Linked DNA regions of Homo sapiens: region 1 is linked to region 2. Evidence: fine-mapped expression QTL. A gene starts in region 2. The other region holds a variant in brackets. All regions are shown on one strand. Distances are from middle to middle. Region 1 overlaps DAAM2 (dishevelled associated activator of morphogenesis 2). Region 2 holds the start of DAAM2 (dishevelled associated activator of morphogenesis 2).

The links. PIP is the estimated chance that this variant, and not a neighbour inherited with it, causes the effect.
Region 1: its variant is fine-mapped to the expression of DAAM2 in whole blood (TOPMed, PIP above 0.99).

What each region holds. Positions count from the first base shown.
Region 1 is chr6:39,821,753-39,832,245 of GRCh38, forward strand. The region is part of intron 1 of DAAM2 (dishevelled associated activator of morphogenesis 2); the gene reads left to right. Among named protein-coding and RNA genes, the nearest start is that of DAAM2, 35 kb to the left of the region's middle. RefSeq lists an enhancer at 2,408-2,968. The variant G/C (reference allele first, on the strand shown) is at 3,918.
Region 2 is chr6:39,788,554-39,799,046 of GRCh38, forward strand. DAAM2 (dishevelled associated activator of morphogenesis 2) reads left to right here and starts at 3,823. Exons shown (of 25, transcript NM_001201427.2): 1 at 3,823-3,912.

The DNA.
Region 1 (10,493 bases), 33 kb after region 2:
ATGTCAGATTTCTCCCTCATTTGGGAAAAACAAAGTGTGGTCAGTGAGTGCTGTTTGTGAAGATGCCAGAGACCAGTGACATTTGCAGCCTGAGGGTGAAATGAGTGACCCTGTGAGTGTATCTCAGGAGGAGACTTGGACCAATTCCTCTTCTTCCTATAGGGTCAGGGGACAGACCAGGCCTGGGCCCCAAGAAATCTGCGTTGTCTCCTTGGATTGAGGCAGCTGCCCATGAGCAGCAGCGGACAGTGTCGTAGTGGGAGGAGGCAGGTCTGCCAAGGGCAGGGAAGAATGGAGGGCCTGTTACTGCTGAAGCCTGGGAACGCTGCCTGGGGGGAGGCCCACGCTCCCCAGAGCTGGAGTGAGAAGGAATGGGAGGAGAAGTCTATGCAGCAGGGGGATGGGCTCAGCCAGCATCCCCACCCTCTGCAGAGCAAATGCCCCCGTCCCATTTCCTGTGGCATGGACACAGGTGAGCTTCCTGGCCTTGAATGCTCAGGTACAGTTTGGAGGGCTGGGGTCTGTTACAAAGAGGTGGCCTCCCATGGAGGAAGCAGGAAATGCTAGAAGCCTCAGCCCCTGGCACTCACCCGAGGGTTTCCAAATCAGAGACACTTTCTGCTAAATTATGCTTCAACAGATGTTTTCTGTGTTCCTACTTGTGCCAGGCTTTGTGCTGGGGATTTACCAAAATATAATATGGCATGGTGGAATTGGGAAGGTGTGCAGAGCTGGAAAGATATTTTGGATGTGAGATTAAAGCCATTTTTGAAAAGTAACAATAATAGTTACCATTTATTCTGTACCTTGAATGCACCAATCACTCTGCTAAAGGCTTTGCATCTCCTTTAATTCTTGCAGTAGTTTATTGACTTGTGACTAATTTTGTAGATTTCAAAGATTAAGAAACTAAGGCTCAGAGATTAAGGACCTTTCCTTAAAGATGCAGGGCTGGTAAATGGCAAAGCCAGGATGAACCTCTTAAGTCGTCTAACCATTTATTCATTTGTGTGTTCAACAAAGTTGAATTGCTGGCCTACTGTGTGACAGCCATTGTAGAGGGCACTCAGGACACAGCTGGGACAGGGAAGGGTCCAGGGCAGCCTAACTCCATAGCCTGGGTCCTCACCCCCAGCCAGAGCCCTTCACACTGGGCCCCAGAGACCCCTGGGAACATTGTGTGATTGTTTTCTCCAAGGTCTGAGACTCTGCTTGAGAATGTGCTTTTCCTTGAGAAATGTTTCTTTGTTTTCATTTTAATAATAATACTGTAAAAATTGGAGGCATTTATTCTGAATCATCTGAATGACCACCATATAACCTACTATTGGCATGCGATTTTAGTCCCCAGGTTTGTGTTTCTGTGCAAGTTGGCACCGAGTGGTTTCCTAAAATGATAGTTTTTAACTTTCAATGCTTTGTTTCTCAAACTGGGCTCTACACTGTGTGCTTCAAAGGCCCAAAGATTAAGAAAGGCTACATCGACAGATTCTACTGCAGGAAGGGAGATGTGCAGTATGGGTGTCCCAAGAGGAAATGGTTCAACATCCTCCTCTCCTGGGGGGTGAAGAAAACTGAGGAGTTCAGGTTGGGGCAAAGCAGCTTGGGGGTTCTGAATCTTCCAACCTGCTGGTCTCCAAGCTCAGGATGGACCTAGGCCAGAGACTCAGAGAGGAACAGGCAAGTCAGGAAAAACGAAGACTCTTGAGTTCAGATTGGTGTGCTCTGCTCTGACATAGCATCTCTGACCTCAAGCAAACTTGCTCCTTTCTGGGCCTTTGCAGATGGGACGACTTGTGCCGGGAAGGGGGAAGTGTGGGGCCTCCCTGGAACACTGTGTGACTTCCTCCCAAAGAGGGATGTTTTGTGGTCATTCAGAACTTCTGACCTTTCCTGAGGCCCAGCTGTTAGGTGAGAAGGCCATCGCATGATCCCTGGTGTACAGAACTGTGCATGTGACTTGTGCCTCACCACCCTGGGGGCATCCAGGGCTGTATCATGCTAGCCTGGTGCTTTGGCCCTTAGATGGGGCTGGGCAATCAGCATCCTTTCTGGATCGGATGTCCTGCCAGTCTTGGAGGCTGGAGGCAGGAGACTGAGGACCCCTGCCTCTCCATCCTCTTCCACCTCCTTTCCCTCCTCCCCCTGCTGGGGTTTTGGGTCTTGCTGTCATCTCTGCTTTTGAATGATGCTCCATTGTATCTCCACTCTCTGGTTACTGTCCCTCAGCTGGGCCCTGGGTGGTCATTCTGGTCGTCTTTTCTCCAGACTCCACTCTACCCTCTTCTGTCTTGTACATTAGGAGTCAGTGAACATTATCTGCAAAGGTCTTGATAGTAAATATTTCAGCTCTGGGGGCCTTCTGTGCTACACATTAGTAATTTGTTCCTAATTTTATCTCCTCAAGCGCAGGAGTCAATAGAACTTGGCTATCTCTGCAGCCTCCCCCGCCCCCAGTTCTGTGCCTGCTGGGCAGTAGGCACTCAGGAAGTATTGCTGGCATAAATCCCAATGACCTCTCCCCATCCCCCTAGAGCCCGTGCCCCAGCAGGGGGCATCTTGGGGTCTAGCTGTACCATTTTGGGAAATCAGGATCTGGTCACCTGTTGGTTGCTGTGGCATCCTGTAGCTAAATCCATCTCTGGCCCTGTAACCTGAACCTGCCCCAGGCCCTGTGCTCCAGGATCAAGTGTCCCTGTTTGTTTTGACATCCCCTGTGGGGCGTTAGAGATCCAGATTTCAAAGCAAGATTTTTTTCTAGCAGCGGTTGAAGGCCAGGCCCCTGCCAGCTCCTGGGCTCCCATGTTAGCATTTTCAGTTAATTAAGAAAACAAACCCCACATCCTTGACAGAGGTGGTTCTGCCAATTCAGGACAGAGAACTTTGCATCAGCATAGCATGCAGGAGAAGCTGGCCAGCTCCTGCAGGCAGGACAAGCTGAGGGAGGCAGATGTTTGAGCTGGAGAGGACCCACTGGTGCCTTCTCGGCAAGAGCAGGTTCCGCGGAAGTCGCATGGTTGGGAAGCCAGCTCCAGGCAAGGTCCAGAGCATGGAATTTCTGTTCCTCTTTCCCCATCCAGGGTGCATTTATCATGGGTGAGGGCCATGGGGAAAGGCCAGCTGGATGAGAATAGCAGGGGGAGACACAAATACTTTCTTGGGACTTGCCAGTCTTCCTCTCCAGAGCCAGGTTATCCCAACTGTCTAACTCCTGGAGGAGAATGATGAGAGGTGACCTGGGGTGGCTTCAGAGGGGCCCAGGTAGCTGACCTGCCAGCTGCCAAGAAGGAGCCTGATCAGAGAGGCTGCTTAGCCATGCAGGGCCTGGATGTGAATTTAAGAAGGGTCTTTGTCAGGCTGGGTGCGGTGGCTCACGCCTGTAATCTCAGCACTTTGGGAGGCCAAGGCAGGAAGATCACCTGAGGTCAGGAGTCTGAAACCAGCCTGGCGGACATGGGGAAACGCTCTCTCTACTAAAAATACAAAAATTAGCCAGGCATGGTGGTGTGCGCCTGTAGTTTCAGCTACTCAGGAGGCTGAGGCAGGATAATGCTTGAACCCGGGAGGTGGAGGTTGCAGCGAACTGAGATTGCGCCACTGCACTCCAGCTGGGTGACAGAGCAAGACTGTTTAAAACAAAACAAAACAAAACAAAACAAAACAAAACAAAACAAAACACAAGGTCGGGGGGTTGGTGGGGGGCCTTTGTTTCTTGAAGGAAACATAGTTAAGCATACTCCTGTAAAGTAGCCCAGCTCTGCCAGTGTGTGTGTGTTGGGGGGCACTTTCCTGAGCCTGGCTGTGCATTCACTCACAGAATCACCCTGTCACCTGATCACACACCCTCTCCATCGTACCAGGGATAAGATATGTCCTTCCCCTGCTCCCACCGTGGCTGTGATTGGGCAGGTGGGAAT[G/C]GGGGGAGTCAAGGGAGCATAGGTGGGACTGGCTTTCTGCACCCCGATATCTGTACTGAGTGTACTGAGTGTACTCTTTCCCAGGTGTACAAGCCCTGCAGGCAGGGTGGGCTCATGTATCTCCTTGGATGTGGGATTCTCTTGCAGTTCACAGCCTGCACACTACATGCAGTGGTCCTTGTACCTCTTGGGTAGAATGGAATTGGAGGGAGACCCAGTCCTGCTCTATCATTGCTAAATGGCCCAGCACACATTATTTGGGCTTTGTGAATCTCTTAATTTCTAATGGGAAATGGGAATGAGGTTCACATTTTATGTGTCCCCATGGTGCAGGTGTGTTGGCAAATATGAGATAAGGCGTATTTCATGCCTAGTGCAGTGAACCTGGCCTCCTTCCCCATTGGACATGTGTCTTGGTCCAGCTTCTGCCTGCTGGCTTGGGATGTGGCTGCCTTAAAAGATAGTGGGGAGAAATGATAAACACACGGCTGGCATCTTCTCAGCTTAGGAGAAGAGCCCTGGGGAAGAAGCGATTGTGCGGCCTGCTCCTGGTCTCTGGTATAACTAGTTCAAATAACTGCCAGTTAGTAGCAGATTTTTTTTTTATTTTACTTTCGAGGGTCTTCTCCTTACCTGCTGGAACTCTCTGGGCTCCCTGCCATGAGTACTTTGTCATTCACAGCACAATCCCAAAGTGAGGGGCTGGGGCTATTCTAGGAAAGCAAGTCTCTTAAAAGGTGAGCATCCCTGTGGTGTCCTAAAGCTGGGGAGAAGCCACTTAGGGTTTTGGGGGACTCTCGACTCCTTCTCTTTCTCTCTTTTTCATTTCCAGTGGAATCCTCAGGTGATCGGTTGTGTAGCTGATATGCCCAATAGCTCCCCTTTCCTGGAGAACATATCCAATTTGCCTCACGATCCTCCTGAAATTCTTGAATCCCTGGACACCAGGCTAGTTTGTTTGCTTTTCTCCTTTTGCCAGTGATTTTTTTCACTTCATATTAGGACTGTTTGCACACAAAAATTAAGAAAAATGTACATAAAAAATCAGATGTGAAATGTGAAAAAGCATACTAATGGTAGGCAAATAATAATAATTAGTATGCATAGTCACAGGTTTCTGTAACTTCAACTTGGCAAATCCAAATGTCTTGGAATGACTGTCAGGAGCACCTTCTCTTTTTAAAGAGAAGTTTCTAAGTACCCTTCAAGCTTCAAAGAGAAAATCTGAGGTGAGGAAATCAGGAGAAGTTGGGAATCAGTTTCCTGGAGTATTTGAGAATATTTAAAGAGAGAGGCGGTGTAGCTTGGATCCTAGCAGGGCTCACAATATTTAGGGGAAATATTCATGAATGAATCTTGGCTAAGATTTTTGGAATTTTTAATTTTTGTTTTTATATTGCATTTTTGTAGTTGTTGTTTCCACTTAAGTAGAAACTCAGGAGAAACCAGGAAGCAAAGCAGAATTTGTCTGCGACTGTTCTGTAGTGGGAGAGAAGAGTTCTGTGCTGTGAATTCGAAAATTGGGTTCTAGACATGGCTGTGGCATGAGTTTGCTGTGGGTCCTGAGGCAAGTAGCCTGCTTCTTGGGCCTCAGTTTCTCGCCTGTAAAGCGGTCTTTAAATGGTAGTACCTTCATTCTCAACGTCTTGTGCATGCCAGCAGCTGTATGAGGGGCGTCCTGCAGATCATGTCGGAGAAAGGAGGAGTTGAGTCCATTTGCACACAGGTGGGGAGTGTGACATCTCAAGAGGGGAAGGCACAGCTATCCAGGAGCTGAAGTGGGGCGGGGGTAGTCTTTTTCAGAGTCTGATTATTGGGTCTGGGTTTGTGGAATGGTGCTTCACCACCCCAGGGAATGGTGGCCCTCACTCACGCCTTGGCTCTGTGTGTGTGGGCTCATGGAGGTGCCCCCGGGCCTGGTAGGATGCAGGGGCCTGGGCTTCAGAAACAGTGGCTGGAGGATTCTCCCTGACTCTTTTCCTTGGGGTCCTCATGCCTGGATTACTCTTCAGGGTCTCTGTCTTTGTGTGAAGTGTGATACCCCTTGACCCCCTTGGTCTGAGAATGAACTCTCTTAATGGACCAAAGGGGAATCTGGAAAATCACAAACCCAGTTTCAGAATTCAAGGGGTATAGTCCCTTCATGTCTGAGCCCTGGAGTACTTCTTGGGTCATCTTGCCAGCTGCCCAAGCTCTGCCTGCCCTGCCGCTCACACTTCTAACTCCTGCCCTCCCTGCTACCTGAAGGCTCATACCTGGGGAACGCCTCGCTGTCCTTGGAGACTCAGCCCAAAAATCACCACACCTACAAAGTCTCTCTAACGCCTCCTCCTCCCCACCAATTTCAGGTAGTAGGGTTCCCTCTCACCTGTGCTCCCACAGGCCTGTCCCTGATGAAGCACTGAGCACAATGTTTGAAAACCACTGTTCTGTCTGACTCTCGCTAGACTATTAGCTTCCAGAATGCAAAGCCCTGACTGGTTCAGTTTTGCATTTCTAGTATGTCTTAGTCCATTTGTGCCAATATTCCACACACTGGGTAATTTATAAACCAAAACAACATTTCTCATGGTTCTGGACTTTGGGAAGTGCAAGATCAAGGTGCCAGCAGAGTTGTTGTCTGGTGAGGGCTGCCCTCTGCTCCTAAGGTGGTGTTTTGTTGCTTCTTAATGAAAAACTGTAAAGAGCATAGGTACTCCTTGCATTTTTGCTATTCATTCATGCAGCCAATATTTAATAAGGACCTACTATGCATTAGCCCTTGCCAGTGGAACTATGCTATAGTTTGCATGTCTGTGTTCCTTTCCTTCCTCTGGAGGGGAAGAACACTGTGTCCTTACATGACAGAAGGAATGGAAGGGCTAAAAGGGCCTAAGCTAATTCCCTCCACCCCCCTCCGTCTTTTTTTTTTTGAGACGGATTCTTGCTCTGTCGCCAGGCTGGAGTGCAATGGTGCGATCTCAGCTCACTGCAGCCTCTGCCTCCCGGGTTCAAGTGATTCTCCTTCCTCAGCCTCCCGGGTAGCTGGGACTACAGGTGCGTGCCACCATGCCCGGCTAATTTTTGTATTTTTGGTAGAGACGGGGTTTCACCATGTTGGCCTGGATGGTGTTGATCTCCTGACCTTGTGATCTGCCCGCCTCTGCCTCCCGCCTTTTTATAATGCACTAATCCATTCATGAAGGTAGAGCCATCATGACTTAATCACTTCCCAAAAGGCCCCACCCTTAGTATTATTGCAACAAAGATTAAGTTTCAACATATGCATTTTGGAGGGAACACAGACATGCAAACCATAGCACAGTTCCACTAGCAGGGGCTAACGCATAGTAGGTCCTTATTAAATATTGGCTGCATGAATGAATAGCAGAGATGCAAGGAGAATTTATGCTCTCTACAGTTTTTCTTTAAGAAAGAAGCAAGAATGGTTACTGTTTGGATAATTCACCCAGGGACCAGCTTCACGGGATGCTGTTTAAACAGATAAATCCAATTGGCATCTCTTCTTTGTATACTTTTGTTGATGGCAGGGGCCTGGGGAGCGGGCTGTGTGTTCCACACAGGGTGTGTGGATGGGCCTGCACATGCGCCTATGACTGGTTGTGGGTAGCAAGCACAGAATGATCCTGTTTTTCTGTAAATACTGAGCCACAAACATTGGCAGTGACTTTCTGGCCATTATCCTCAGTGGTGTGTGATTCTTGCGGCTTTTCCCAGGGTGTACCAAAGGAGTGTGACTGTGGTGACCATCGATGGGGAGGCTGGCAGCACTCAGGGTGATGGACAGAACCCCATGGTTGGTTCCCTCTTAAGAGGCTTGTGTTGGAGGCTGAGTGATACCTCATTTGGCACCAGTTGGAGAGTTTATAGCCTGTGAGGGTTCTTACACTTACCAAGAGGAAATTGGGCAATAGAAATTTATGTTAATGTCTGTGGGATAACAAAAAAGCAACATGTCCCTGGGTCAGTAGTGATCTTACCTTCAGGGGTTTGTTTATTCATTGGCACACTCAGACATTTCTACTCAGTGCCTGCCATATATGCCTGTCCTCATTCTAGGGATGCAGACTGAACCTGGTCCCTGCCCTCAGAGGGCTTAGTTTCTGGTAAAAGTGCTTGAAGATTGGGAGGATGGGAGTTGAAGCTGGCACCCTCCCCAGAGCCGTTCTGAGCCGGCCCCTTGGTGGGAAATATCATTTCTCCATTTATTAGCTCCTCTGTTCTCCCCCAAGTTGTTGCTGGCCAGAAGCACCTTGGTACCACCCTTCTAGATTTCTCATGCTCCCTCCTTCCCCACGCTGAGTTAGAGACCCTTCATCCATACTCTCATCATTCCCTGTACAGCTCCACCAAGATACTTCTGCCCACTACCCCGGCCTGCTCACATTTGTACCCCCTTTCCGACTGGGAGATTTTTACAATCAGGTCTGTGTTTTATTCACTGCCGCATCCTACAGTGCACAGTGTCTGGCCCAGAGTGGGGGTTCATAGATGGTTGTGGAGTGGATGCCCATGGGGCAATGCTGGACTGCATTTATTTCATCTTCAGCATTCACACTGAAGCCTGTGTCTATCTATTTTCATCTTTTTCTGGGTCCGTCATGGAGAGGCATGACTCTCAGAGAAGTTGCTGAAAAGCTGGGGCATTGCGAGAAATTGGAGAAATCTGGGAAGCCACAGGCTGGAGTCGCTGGGGTCCGGTGAGTCCTCTGTGACTGTCATTCCACGCACTCCCTCCCAGGGAGGGAGGCAGGTGGGCTTCAGGGCTGACAGAGTGGGGCTCTGAGTCCAGACTGTGCTTGTGCTGAGGCCTGCGTCTTCTTCATCGTGAGTGGGGACAAGTGATGCTGACAGACAGACCTACCCCTGTGGCCCTCCGGCTCAGGCAGTGCAGCTGGGCCAGCAGGAGAGAGGGCCGCCTGGGAATAGCTGGGAAGCAAGTCCAGGCCTTGGGCCCACCTCCCCCAAGGCCAGGATGTGGCGTGGGACCCAGGCCTGCGGAGGTTCCCACCACTCTGCTCCTGCACTCCCAAATGCTCCAGGCCCAGGCAGCAGGAGGGGGTGGCGAGGGGCTCCAGCTGCCTGGGTCAAGACTGCATCAGGACCAGGGCAGCTCTGCAGGCACACACCTCTGACATTTAGCCTCCACCTGGATAGCTGCCAGTGGCCCTGCAGTCCGGACCAGCTTTGCATGGGGGAGGAGAGTCAGGGATTAACCATTTCAGGCCCTTCCTCCATCAGGCAGAAACTGGTCCTCTCAGGTCGACCATGTACCAAGGACCGGAGTGGGCATATTTACAAATGTTGCCTCATTTAATCTTCACATCAACGTGAGGGTGTGGGCATCATCTCCATTTCTCAGATGAGTAAACTAAGGCATGTGGGGAGTTATGTAACTTGCCTAAGTCTACACAGTTAGTAAGTTTCATATATTCCTTCTTTATTACAAGGGCCTATTATGTACCAGGTAGTAATTCTAGTCACTGCGGATACAGCAATGAATGATAGACAAAAATGCCCCATGGAATATACATTCTTGTGGGAGGGATAATGAATACATGGGATGTATAGTCTGTCAGGTGGTGGTAAGTCTACGTGGAAAATGAAGGGAAGGGAGATGGGAGGTGCTGGGAGCGGGGCTGCTATTTCAGATGCCCTTGAAAGACCTCACTGAGAGGGTGTGAGTTATTCACACTTAGTGCTGAATAGGTGCCTGGTGCTACCCTAATCACTGTACCTGACTCACTAAATTAATCCCCACAATTAATCCCCACAATCTTTGAGGCAGATTACTATTATTATTCTCATTTTCACATGGGGAAACTGAGGCACAGGGAGGTTAAGTAACTTGCCAAAGATGACACAGCAGATAAGAAGCAGCTCTAGGATTTGCACCCAGGAAGTCTAACTCCTGAGTTCTGGCTCTTAACCTCTGTGTGGCCTCTGCCAGGGCCACAAAGACAGTAAATGGGTGGGAAGGTCAAGAGGCTTGTAAGACCCCACCTGAACAGTCCAGGTCTGTGGCCTGGGGGGTAGGCACGCTGAGGGACAGGTGCACTAGGGGGCAGGTGCACTGTGGGGACAGGAGCACTGGGGAGGCAGGTGTACTGAGGGGGCAGGTGCACTGGGGGGGGGCAGGTGCAGTGCAGGGACCAGAGCACTGGGGGGTAGGTGCACTGGGGAGGCAGGTGTACCGAGGGGGCAGTTGTACTGAGGGGGCAGGTGCACTGGGGGGCAGGTGCACTGAAGGGGCAGATGCAGTGCGAGGGCCGGGGCACTGGAGGGTAGGTGCACTGGGGGGGTAGGTGCACTGGGGGGTAGGTGCACTGGGGAGGCAGGTATACTGGAGGGACAGGTGCACTGGGGGCGCAGGTACACTGCGGGGACAGGTGTACTGAGGGAGTAGGTGCACTGGGGGAACAGGTGTACTGGGGGGACAGGTACGCTAGGGAGGCAGGTGCACTGGTGCTCACTCCTCTGCAGCTCCCTTGGTGAGGAAAGGGTAGAGGGGCCGACAGGTCAGTTGCAGTTAAACCTGGGTGAAAGTGGGGCTTGACTAGTTTGTGTCAAATAAGG
Region 2 (10,493 bases):
TAGAGGCTTTCAATTTATTTTGCTTCATTTGAACTTTACAACAATACTTTAGGGTGGAATAATTTTCATCCCATGTTGTTGTTGAAGAACACTGTATTTTTTAGGATTCTCCTACTAATAGGAGATTCAGAGAAACAACCAACAGGATGTAGTATATGAATATTGAGAGAGAGAGAGACTGATTTTAAAGAATTGGCTTATGTAATTATGGAGGCCTGGTAGTCTAAAATCTGGAGGGTAGACCAGCAGGGGTAGGCCAGCAGGCTGGAGACCCAGGGAAGCATTGCAGTTGGAGTCCTGAGGCAGTCTGCTGGCACAGTTCCCTCTTGCGGGGTGGGGGTCAGTCTTTGTTCTATTAAGAATTTCAGTTGATTGCATGAGGCCTACCTACATTATGGAGGGTACTCAGCTTTACTCAAAGTCCACCAATTTAAATATTAATCTCATCCAAAACCACCTTCACAGAAGTATCCAGAATAATGCTTGATCAACTATCTGGGCACTGTGGCACAGCCAAGTTGACACATGAAGTTAACCATCACAAAAACTATGCTTGAGAAAGTTTCCTGCCATGCTGAGGTCACACAGCAGTGAGAGGCAGGGCTGGGATTTAACCAAGGTCTTTGGTTCAAACACTTGCTATAGTCCACAATAGTAAATCAGAGAAAGGTATATGTTATTTGCGGAGAGTCACATATTGATTAGATGACATATTCATGGGGCCTTCATTTATTCTTCAGAAAGTCTTTATGGAGTGCTATTGTGGTCCATGCTGTACTAGACTAGGATCTCTACCCCTGGAGAGTGAGCAAGTGACTTTTGTGAAGCCTGCTTCTTATCATGATAGGCTGGGCCTTGGAAGTATATAGTGAGCTTTGGAAGCCAGGTCAACCATAATGTGCTATTTGAGAATCTTTCATCAAGCAGGTACAATTTTCCAGATGAGTAGTGTGCTACAGAGGGCCTCACTGTATGTTCCGGGAACATTCCTAGAATATGCAGGTGAAGAAGGATGAAACCCCTTTCTTGGGAATCTTGAGAATAGGAGAGACTCCCACATTAGGACCCTGTGAGTGATAGGGCTGGGGGTAGGGAGTGAATCAGATGATCTTCGAGTGGGCCCTACTACTTCATGGACTCTTCAGGGCTTGCCAACCTCAAAAACAGCTCCTCAGCACTGACAGCCACGTATTTTATGAATTTCACTTGCTCCTCATCCCAATAGAACCCAATTAAGAATGCTTGGGGGCCAGGCGCAATGGCTCACACCTGTAATCCCAGCGCTTCGGCCTCTCGAGTTGAGAGAATTGCTTGAGACCAGGAATTTGAGATTAGCTTGGGAAACATAGCAAGACCACATCGCTACAAAAAAAAAAAAAAAAAAAAAAAAAAAAAAGGTTAGCAGGGCCTAGTGGCATGCACCTGTAGTCCCAGCTACTGGGAAGGCTGAGGTGGGAAAATCCCTTGAGCCCAGGAGTTCGAAGCTGTAGTGAGCTATCATCGTGCCACTGCACTCCAGCCTAGGTGACAGAGAGAGACCCTGCCTCCAAAACACTTGGGCAAGGATGGAGAGACTCCCCTCTCCCAGACCTAGAATGCTTGCTCCTCAGCCTCACTTCCCCTGTTTCTGTCCTCATGATGTCCCCAACCTGCCACCTCTGAGTCTCTGGCCCTATCTTTTTTTGTGTTTTTATTTATTTATTTATTTATTTATTTATTTATTTATTTATTTATTTTTTTGAGACGGAGTCTCGCTCTGTCGCCCAGGCTGGAGTGCAGTGGCGCAATCTCGGCTCACTGCAAGCTCCGCCTCCTAGGTTCACGCCATTCTCCTGCCTCAGCCTCCGAAGTAGCTGGGACTACAGGCGCCCACCACCACGCCTGGCTAATTTTTTGTATTTTTTAGTGGAGACGGGGTTTAACCGTGTTAGCCAGGATGGTCTCGATCTCCTGACCTCGTGGTCCGCCCGCCTCGGTCTCCCAAAGTGCTGGGAATACAGGCGTGAGCCACCGCGCCTGGCCAAATCTGATCTTCTCTTAAAGAGAGTTTGTGGAAGGCATCCTCTGTCTTCTGTATTACAATCTCACTGGTCAGAACTTGGTCTCATAGCAATTGTGAGCTACCAGGGAGTCTGGGATGGTGAATATTGTAGATTTCTAACTTCTTTAGTTGAGAAAGGCAAGGGAGAATGGGTTTGTCAATGGCTTCTGGAAACCTATTTGCAGGGTCTGCTGAAGAACAGAGCTCACCTTGCCAGTGGAGCCTTGATATGAGAGAGGGAATGGAAGGAGGTAAAAGTGGGGTATTATGCCAGGGAGAGCAATCCCACAGTGACCAAACAGCAGCTCCCTGCTGCAGGGCCCTCGGTGGCTTGGGTCAAAACAGCGTGGCCTCTACCGAGAGGCCCAGCCCTAAGACAGCTCCTTCTGGCAATCAGCTCTAACCAGCTGCTGCCAAAGAGGTAAACACATTCCAAGTCCTTGAGTCCCTGCTGCACTGTAACTGTGGTTAAAACACAACCCCGCCTCTACCAGTTTGGGCTAATGGAAAGTTCACTATAGTTGTGTTTTAATGATGATTTGCAATTATCCGTGCCCCCTCCCATTCATGGTGAGATGAATACCTAAACACTTATGTTGTCTAACCATATAAGTATTTTGCATCTCACGTGTATCATTTTAAGTTCATTTCATTCTCCAATCCTTGGGAACCATGAAGGATAACACATTACATTCTCTTTTTTTTTTTTTTTTCCTCTGGAAGATCATGCATTACATTCTCTTTTTTTCTCTGGAAGGGTGGCCCTTAAACCAAGCCATTTCCCTAAGCCCCTTTGGTGAGGTGGAGAAACAGACAACCACTAACACAGAACAACCACTGAACACCCAGAAAACTGTATACAGGTCATCACCCAGTGGGGGCACCATTTGCTTGCAGAGGGAGCTGGGGAAAATAGGAAACAGAGAAGATCAAATACTCCCCGTGAGGGTGTTGCCAATCCCAGAGAGGACAATTGCTCTTGACCAAAGCAATCTCTAGTTCAGTCAAGGAGACAGACCACAATCACATTTAAAAAAAAAAGAAAAAAAAAAACTAAAAGGAAATTTTAAAAGTATGAATAAGAGCTATTGTAAACTGCTCAAACTATGCATACAAGCAATGAAGTAAGATGAATTGACTGGCACTGAATTGGAAAAGCTATACAGAGGCAGGGAGTGTGGAACATAATTTAATAAAAATAAACTTAAAAAAATATATATACACTCCCAAAAAAGAAATGGAAAAGTTGTTAGGGCGTGGACCAGGACTCCTAATTAGCTGTTCTGTTGTGCCTGATTTCGCTCCTGTCTTGCCCAGCACCCCTTGGGACACACTGTCCAGTGCAGGGACACTTTGGGGAGGGACAGGGGATTCCTTGGCACCGGGACCTTCACCTCCGAGCCGGCCTCAGACCAGGCCATTTGCCCGTAGCCCAGAGGAGGAGCCGGGGAGAAACCCGCTGCCCAGGTGGCCACTTTTGCCTCTTTGACCCTTCCATGTTTCCAAAACAGAAGGGGCCCTGAGAACGCTCCCTGCCAAAGTGGGGAACAGCTACCCTCATTGTACGCCTCGCCCTGCCGGTGGCGCTCTCCCCCCGCCTGCGTTCGGTCTGAAAGTGTGAAAATTACAAATCCCAAGAAACTGCAATCAGAAGTCTACCTAGGGAAAATTCAGAGTAACCTTGCCATAAATATCCCGCTCCAAGACGCCTGACGTCAGAGCGGGGCGGGCGGACGGGCGCGAGGCCGGGCCTGGAGGGGCGGCAGCCGCGGCTTCCCGGGGATAGCGCGGAGCACGCAGCAGCGAGCGGAGCGCGGGCGGCGGCGCCGTACCTCGGGCTGCGGGAGCGCGGGCGCCCTGGGGTCCTCGGAGTAAGTGCGGCCGGCCCTGGCGCTCCCCGTCTTGGGGCCCGGGCCGCGGGGAGCCCTCTCCGCTGGGCTCCCACACTTCTCTCCCTCTGCTTTCTTTAGCATGCCCCGCGGGGCTTGGGGAGGCAGCAGCTCCGCAGGCTGGCGGTTTTGTTTCTCCAAAGTGTTTGCAGGAGCCGCCGACCCCGGAGTGGGCTCCCAGGGCCTGTGTGTGTGTGAGTTGTGTGTGTGTATGAGTGTGATTGCGTGTGTCTGTACTGGCACATCTGGACATAGGAAATGTCTTTGGAAAACTTTTTAAAAATGTTTTTTGCGGCTTTGAAACCTGACCCCTGGTTGTCACAAGTGGACAAACACAGAAGATACCCCGCAAAACTGACAACTTTTTGGTGGTGGCTTTTCCGGGTTCGGCTTGAACCTTCACTTGGCTGGGCTGAAGTCTTCACAAGCCCCCAGCTCCCACTTGCAGGCCTGGCCTCTGGCCAGTGGGCAGGGCAGCCGTAAGGTTCTTGTTCTCAGTGGCAGTGGGACCCTGGGCGGGGGAAGGAGCATCTCAGGAAAGGGGTCCCCGGACTCTGGGGCTCTCAGCACCTGCGGTCGCAAACCAACCTCATGCCCTGACTTTACCAGGCGTCGGGACTCTGACTTAACCGGGGAATGAGGGACTTGGTCTGGCGGCAGGTAATTTTGTGAAGAGGATGAGAAGGAAGAGGGGGAGGTGGTGGTGATGGCCAGGACGCTGTGGCCCTGTGTCCAGCCGTAGCTTGGGAGTGGGATGGTTGGTTCTGCCACATGGCCACGGTGAGGTACGTGCCAGGTTCTCCAGGAGTGCCGCGTGTGGTGCCCCAAACAAGATGCAAGCTCCTAACATAAAGAGACGTGTCTGAGCTGTGGGGTGGAGGAAGGGGGGCGGTGGGGGAGAGGGAGATTTTTATCAAAATTGAACACAGATTGCTGAGATCTGGGCTTGATTTAACTCTTCTCTCTCTGCCTCGGCCACTTCTCCACAGTTTTGGAGTGGATTTGGAACGTTTCTCGGAGGGTTAGAGGAAAATCACACCTCTCCGGAAAAGAGTCCCCATAGGTTTTCCCTTGATGCCCACGTGGGAATGAAAGCAGCTTCCCATCTTTAAAAAGTTCAAAGTCTTGTGTTTTCCCCCTTCTGAGTTTGGTGTTAGTTTCCTGAGTTTCTTTGCAAAGCCAGCTGAAGCGGGGGATGGATTTTCCCTAGGGCCTAGGGCGGAAAGTGTGCTCCACGGAGAGTAGGGGAAAAAAGCAGCAGTGAGGCTGTATCGATCCATCATCCCTGAGTAGCACAGTGCCAGGCACTGCCTGTCAATAGCTGGGTTCCACAAACGAGTGACCACAGACAGACTGAATTTTCAGCTTTGAGCTAGCCAGGTCTCTGGTTTTGTATTTTGCAGTAGAGCCAACCTACAATGTCTGGGTGGGAGGAAGATTACTGGACTCTCCCTCTGTCCTAGAAAAATGAGAAAATGAAGGGACAGGGAGGAAATCTGGATGTAAAAACAGACCCACAGGAAGTTAAGATTCAGGAAGGATTTTAGAAATTATATAAATTGAACCCCAGGGAAGCTCCATAAAAGATGGAGCAGGCAGCAATGTCAGAAACAGACTCATTTAACTTCAGGAGTACGTTGTCAACTGAAGTGTAATGAAGGAGGAGGAAATCATCCCATAGGCAATGTAAACAAGGGTGCATGTAAACAGGAGTGACTGGTCCCCATGAGATGCACATGCCTATGTGTTTTTACACATACATGACTGTGTGGTGATGGCCATGGCCTTAGACATGGGAGGATAAATGGTCTATTTCTTCATCTGTGCTGGGAACTCCATCTAACCCCCATTTCTTCCTTTATGCAAACAACTGTGCTATTATTGTCTTGCTCCCTGGTAGTTGCAAACTCTGGCTCCTAACTCCCAGCTGAGTTTTCAGAGCTTTTCCTCCAGCGCCTCGGATGCTGAGGGAATACTCGTGCCCCCATCAGGACAAAAAGAGGAGAGAACATTCTCCTGGGCATTAGAACTTAGAGAGTCAGGGGCTCAAGAAGGCGGAGGCTGTGCAGGCAAGACCAATAGGAAGGCCTGTAAATGATTTTGTTTTTGGTGAGCGTGGAGGAAGTTGAAATACTACTGCTTGCTGTGAGAACATGTTCTCTCCCCAGTCTTCTTTCCCGACTGTCTCCAAAGTTTTTGATGCAAAACAGATTAAACTCCCCATTACTAAAGAGCCTTGGATCCAGGTGTAAAGAATGAAGATAAAGGGTAAGTACAGGCAGTAGAGAAAGCATAGAGATAATGAAAGATGAGGCTTTCTTATTTGATTTTACTAGAGCCAATGGAAGTAACAAGTTTAAATGTTCTCATTCATTTCCATTATTTAAACATAGAAGACTACCCAGGGACAGAAGGGACCCCTCGGAACAGGATTCCCAGAAATACTCTTATCCCAGCATACAACTCCTCAGGGACAGGTGAGGGGCAAGAACTGGGTTTTCAACTCTTTCTACATGTGGGGTTTCTGGGAGTGCTGCATGTGGGATCAGTGGAGTCCTGATGCTTCTGGGCTTGTACTAGGAGACATTTCACTATGGCCGGGATGAATTCCCAGGCCATGGATGCCTAGGCTGACATTGAAGCCTTCTCATGGCTCATTCTATCAGTTCAATCTTCTGGCCAGCTCTTTGGTCATCTTTGAGATTAGATTAAGTAGATGGGATGCATTCCAAGACATCCTTGAAGGTCCAGAGGGCAAACACAGCTGGCAGAAAGAACAAGTTGAAGGATATCCTTGGCTTTGATAGCGGATGACCCTCTAGATCTCAACAGCCAGAGACTCTGTCAAGGATCCTGTGTCATTCAGCCCTAGACTTCAGAGGCAGCCCGACAACAATGGAAAGAGTGCAGATTTCTGATCAGCTGCCTGGAGAGAGAGAACTGTGACCTAAATACGAATTAGTAACCTGGGCTACATGACTTATTCCTTCTGAGCTTCAGCTTCCTCATCTGTAAAATAAGGATAGTATTTCCCTCCCCAGGTCATTATGAAAACATTTATGCACAAGAACTAAGAACAGAGCTCAGAATGTTATAAGACCCTTCATAAAGGGAGTGCTGTATTTTTATTTTTCAGTTTTTCAGCCATCACAAGCCAGTATTGCTTGGAAAGAACCTCTCCCCAAATCTAGCTACATATTTTCCATGATTGAAGGCTAGTGGGTGGAGTTTCTAGGGCTCTGATCATCCTTACTTCCTTCCTCTAGAAAAGGTGACCAATGAAGATATTCCATGAGCATCCCTGGTCCATTATCCTGAAGTGTGGGAGAAGAAACCAGGGATCCTGGATGTCTGGCCTAGAAATCACTCTTGTGTTTGTGCTCTTTAGGGAGGGAGAAGGACAGAAGAGCAGGTTGTATAAGTATGGTGGGGAGGGGAAAGGTAGGGAGGTGGGGGTAGGGCAGGAGGGTCAAGGACCAATTGGATCTTGAAGGACAAGCCTGAGTCAGAGAGCGGGTAGGCAGCCACTCCTTGTCAAGGGTGCTCAGGTCAGAGTAATGGGGGAATCTGATGGGTTGTAAAGAATGAAAGCTTTAGTCATTGCAAACATCTCCAGTGGGTATGGGGTGGGAGGCTGCCCCCTGAACCCTGATTGATACATTATCCAAGGGAGTGACTACTCCAAAGGAACAAAGGAACATCTGATGTTAGAGAGCAGCTGCAGGTCCTCTTGGCCCATCTCAAAGCTTGTAAGTTATCCTTCAAGTTGACATTTAAGATTTTGAAGATCACATTTGTTTTTGTTTTGTTCAAGCTCTCTCTTTAACCATGGCCTGGGATGACTTTTAAGCTTTTAAGAGGCTCAACCAGTGGTCAACTTCTCTTGAGATGGCCCAGAGCGGGGGTCAGTGAATTCCTCACTCTTGGCAGCATCTATTTCTCCAACTCTCTCCACATTTTTTGGTTTGTTTTTTGTTTCATTATGAGGTTCTAAAACTGCACAGTCAAGATGCTGTGGGGGGAGGAAGTAAGTGCCTGTTCTTGGAACCTGTGCAGCGTTATGCTAGCACTGGCCAAGACTTATCAGACTATGGTTATTAATAGGTGTTATGGGTTTCTTTCTGGGGTCCCCCTCCAAAAAAAAAAAAAAAAAAAAAACCTGTAAAAAAAAAATGAACTTTAGGCAGTTTGATGTCTCTTTCAATCCTGGCCAAAGAGGAGCTGAATTATTTGTGGTACATCCTATGGTTCCAAGGAAGAGCTTTAGAATCAAGCAGACAGAGATTTGAGTTCTGGCACCACCAGGTCACAAGCTTGCTAACCTCTCTGAGTCTTCTTTATCTGTTAAATGAGAACAATAACTATTCTCATTCCCCAGGGTTGTTCTGAAAATGAAATGGAATGATATAAGGGAAGAAGCTAGCAAACTGCTCAGTAAAATGTTAATGCCATTCCCCTCTCCAGTTCTAAGTCCGTGAAAATACATGGGTTTAGACATTTGTCCACAGGTCAAAGTAAATAAGCCACTTATTCAAGGATTAACAACTGTGCTTGGAGGTCAGATATCTCAGCCTGGAGATGGAGACCCTTTATACAAAAGTGGGGCACAGAACAGTGCTCCCCATGCCAAGCAAATGGCAGCCCCATGTGACCCTCTATTGGAATAAAGGAAAGGCCACTAGCTCACTCACCCATGAATTTGGGCTATTTAGTGAGCTCTCCATAGAGCTTGTTTAAAAAGCTCAAATACTGTCCTGAGAATCAAGGTCAAACTGAGGACAGAAATCATTGAGGCAGTACCTAACATTAAAATCTAATAATGATGTCACAATGACAGCAGTATTTTAAATTTATATAACATTGTATCATTTGAAAGGTACATTGTCTCATTTAAACATCGTTGACAATCATATGAGATTGATATTAACCACATTTCACAGCCCAAATTCTGAGGACTTAAAAAACTTACCATATTTCACACCTTAAGTAAGTGGAATAAACAGAAAACAAACTGTTCCCCAAGCAGTGGGTCTCAACCCTGGCTGCACATTAGAACCACTTGGGGGAGCTTGTAAAAGTATCAATGCTTGGGCCCACCCCAGATCAATTTAATTAGACTCCTTGGGAATGGAACCTAGGCGTCCACAGTTCTGTAAGCTTCCCAGGTGATCTGAAGTCTAAGCTGAGAATCACTGGTCTAAGAGGAGTGAAAAGCACCAAAGTTAGGACCCAGGATACCAGGCATGGGAAAAAGAAACAGCCAAGACTTTGCTAGGATTTAAGCCCTATGAGGGTGCAGACTTCGTATGGTTCTCCCTGTATCCCTGGAGCCTAGGAGAGTGCCAGCTACAAGGTAAGTGCTCAATAAACATTGGGTAGATGAACAAATGAACAAGATACCATAGATTAGAAGTTGTCAATTTCAACAGTGAAACCCAGCTTGTCATCTTGTTTTATAGATAAAGTTTTATTGGAACACAGCCATCTCTGTTCATTTGTGCTTTGCCTATGGCTGCTTTCGTGCTGCAATGGCAGAGTTGAGTAGATGTGACAGAGACTGCATGGCCTACAAAGCTGAAAACATTTACCATCTAGCATTTCACAGGAAAGGTTTGCTGGCTCCTGCTCTGGATCCCAGACATGAACAGAGCAAGTATAGTAGCTTAGGGAAGGTCATTACTGCATGGTTGTTAAGAATATGGGTTCTAGAATCAGATAAACCTATGTATGATTCCTGGAACACTTACCTATTAAAAGAGCTTGCAAATTATTTCACCTTTCTGATTCTCAGTTTTCGCATCTGAAAAGTGGGGATGATAATAAAATACCTCCCTCATAGGATGACTGTGAGGGTTGTCAGCCCCTGGCGGAGAGTAACATTAGCTATAGCTATGGTAGTTGCTGTAGTTACTAGCAATCAGCCACATAGAGAACTAACTAGACAAAAGTCAAAATCTAAATCCAGTATCACAAGGTAGATCAAGGGATGAAGTAGGAAAAAATAGGCAGTCAGTAAGCTTGTGTGAAGAAAGACTAATGTGAGGTTTCTGAGATAAATGGTGTCCTTTTAAGACAACACAGATCAGGCCCCAGGAAGTGTGAGTGAGGTGCTTTTGTATGACCAATTGCTGTGTCGGCCAGCAATCCCCATCAGTCCTCAAGGGTTAACTTAAGTTTCATTGCACCAAATCTAGTCTCAAGAACAGTGCACCTGTATACATAGTTCTTTCTACCTGAAAGTCCTTGCCTCAGTCCTGGTCTTCCTGATCTACTCATCCTCCAAGGCCTGCTCAGGTGTCCCTTTTTTTCTCAAATTCCCTCTACAAGGCTCATTCCAACCCCCTTTTCCTCCTTATTCCCTTGAACCTGGCACACAACTCTGTCATCACATTGAACACATTGCATTACCGTCGAGGAAGGACCAAGTCTCCTTCATGCTTTCTACATGTTTACAGCTCATAAAAGTCAAATTGCATTGTAGAATCGACGCCTGGAAGCCAAACCATATCAACTAGGCCCTTAATCCAAGGCAATCATGTCTGAGTTTGAGGAATGAGTAGGAC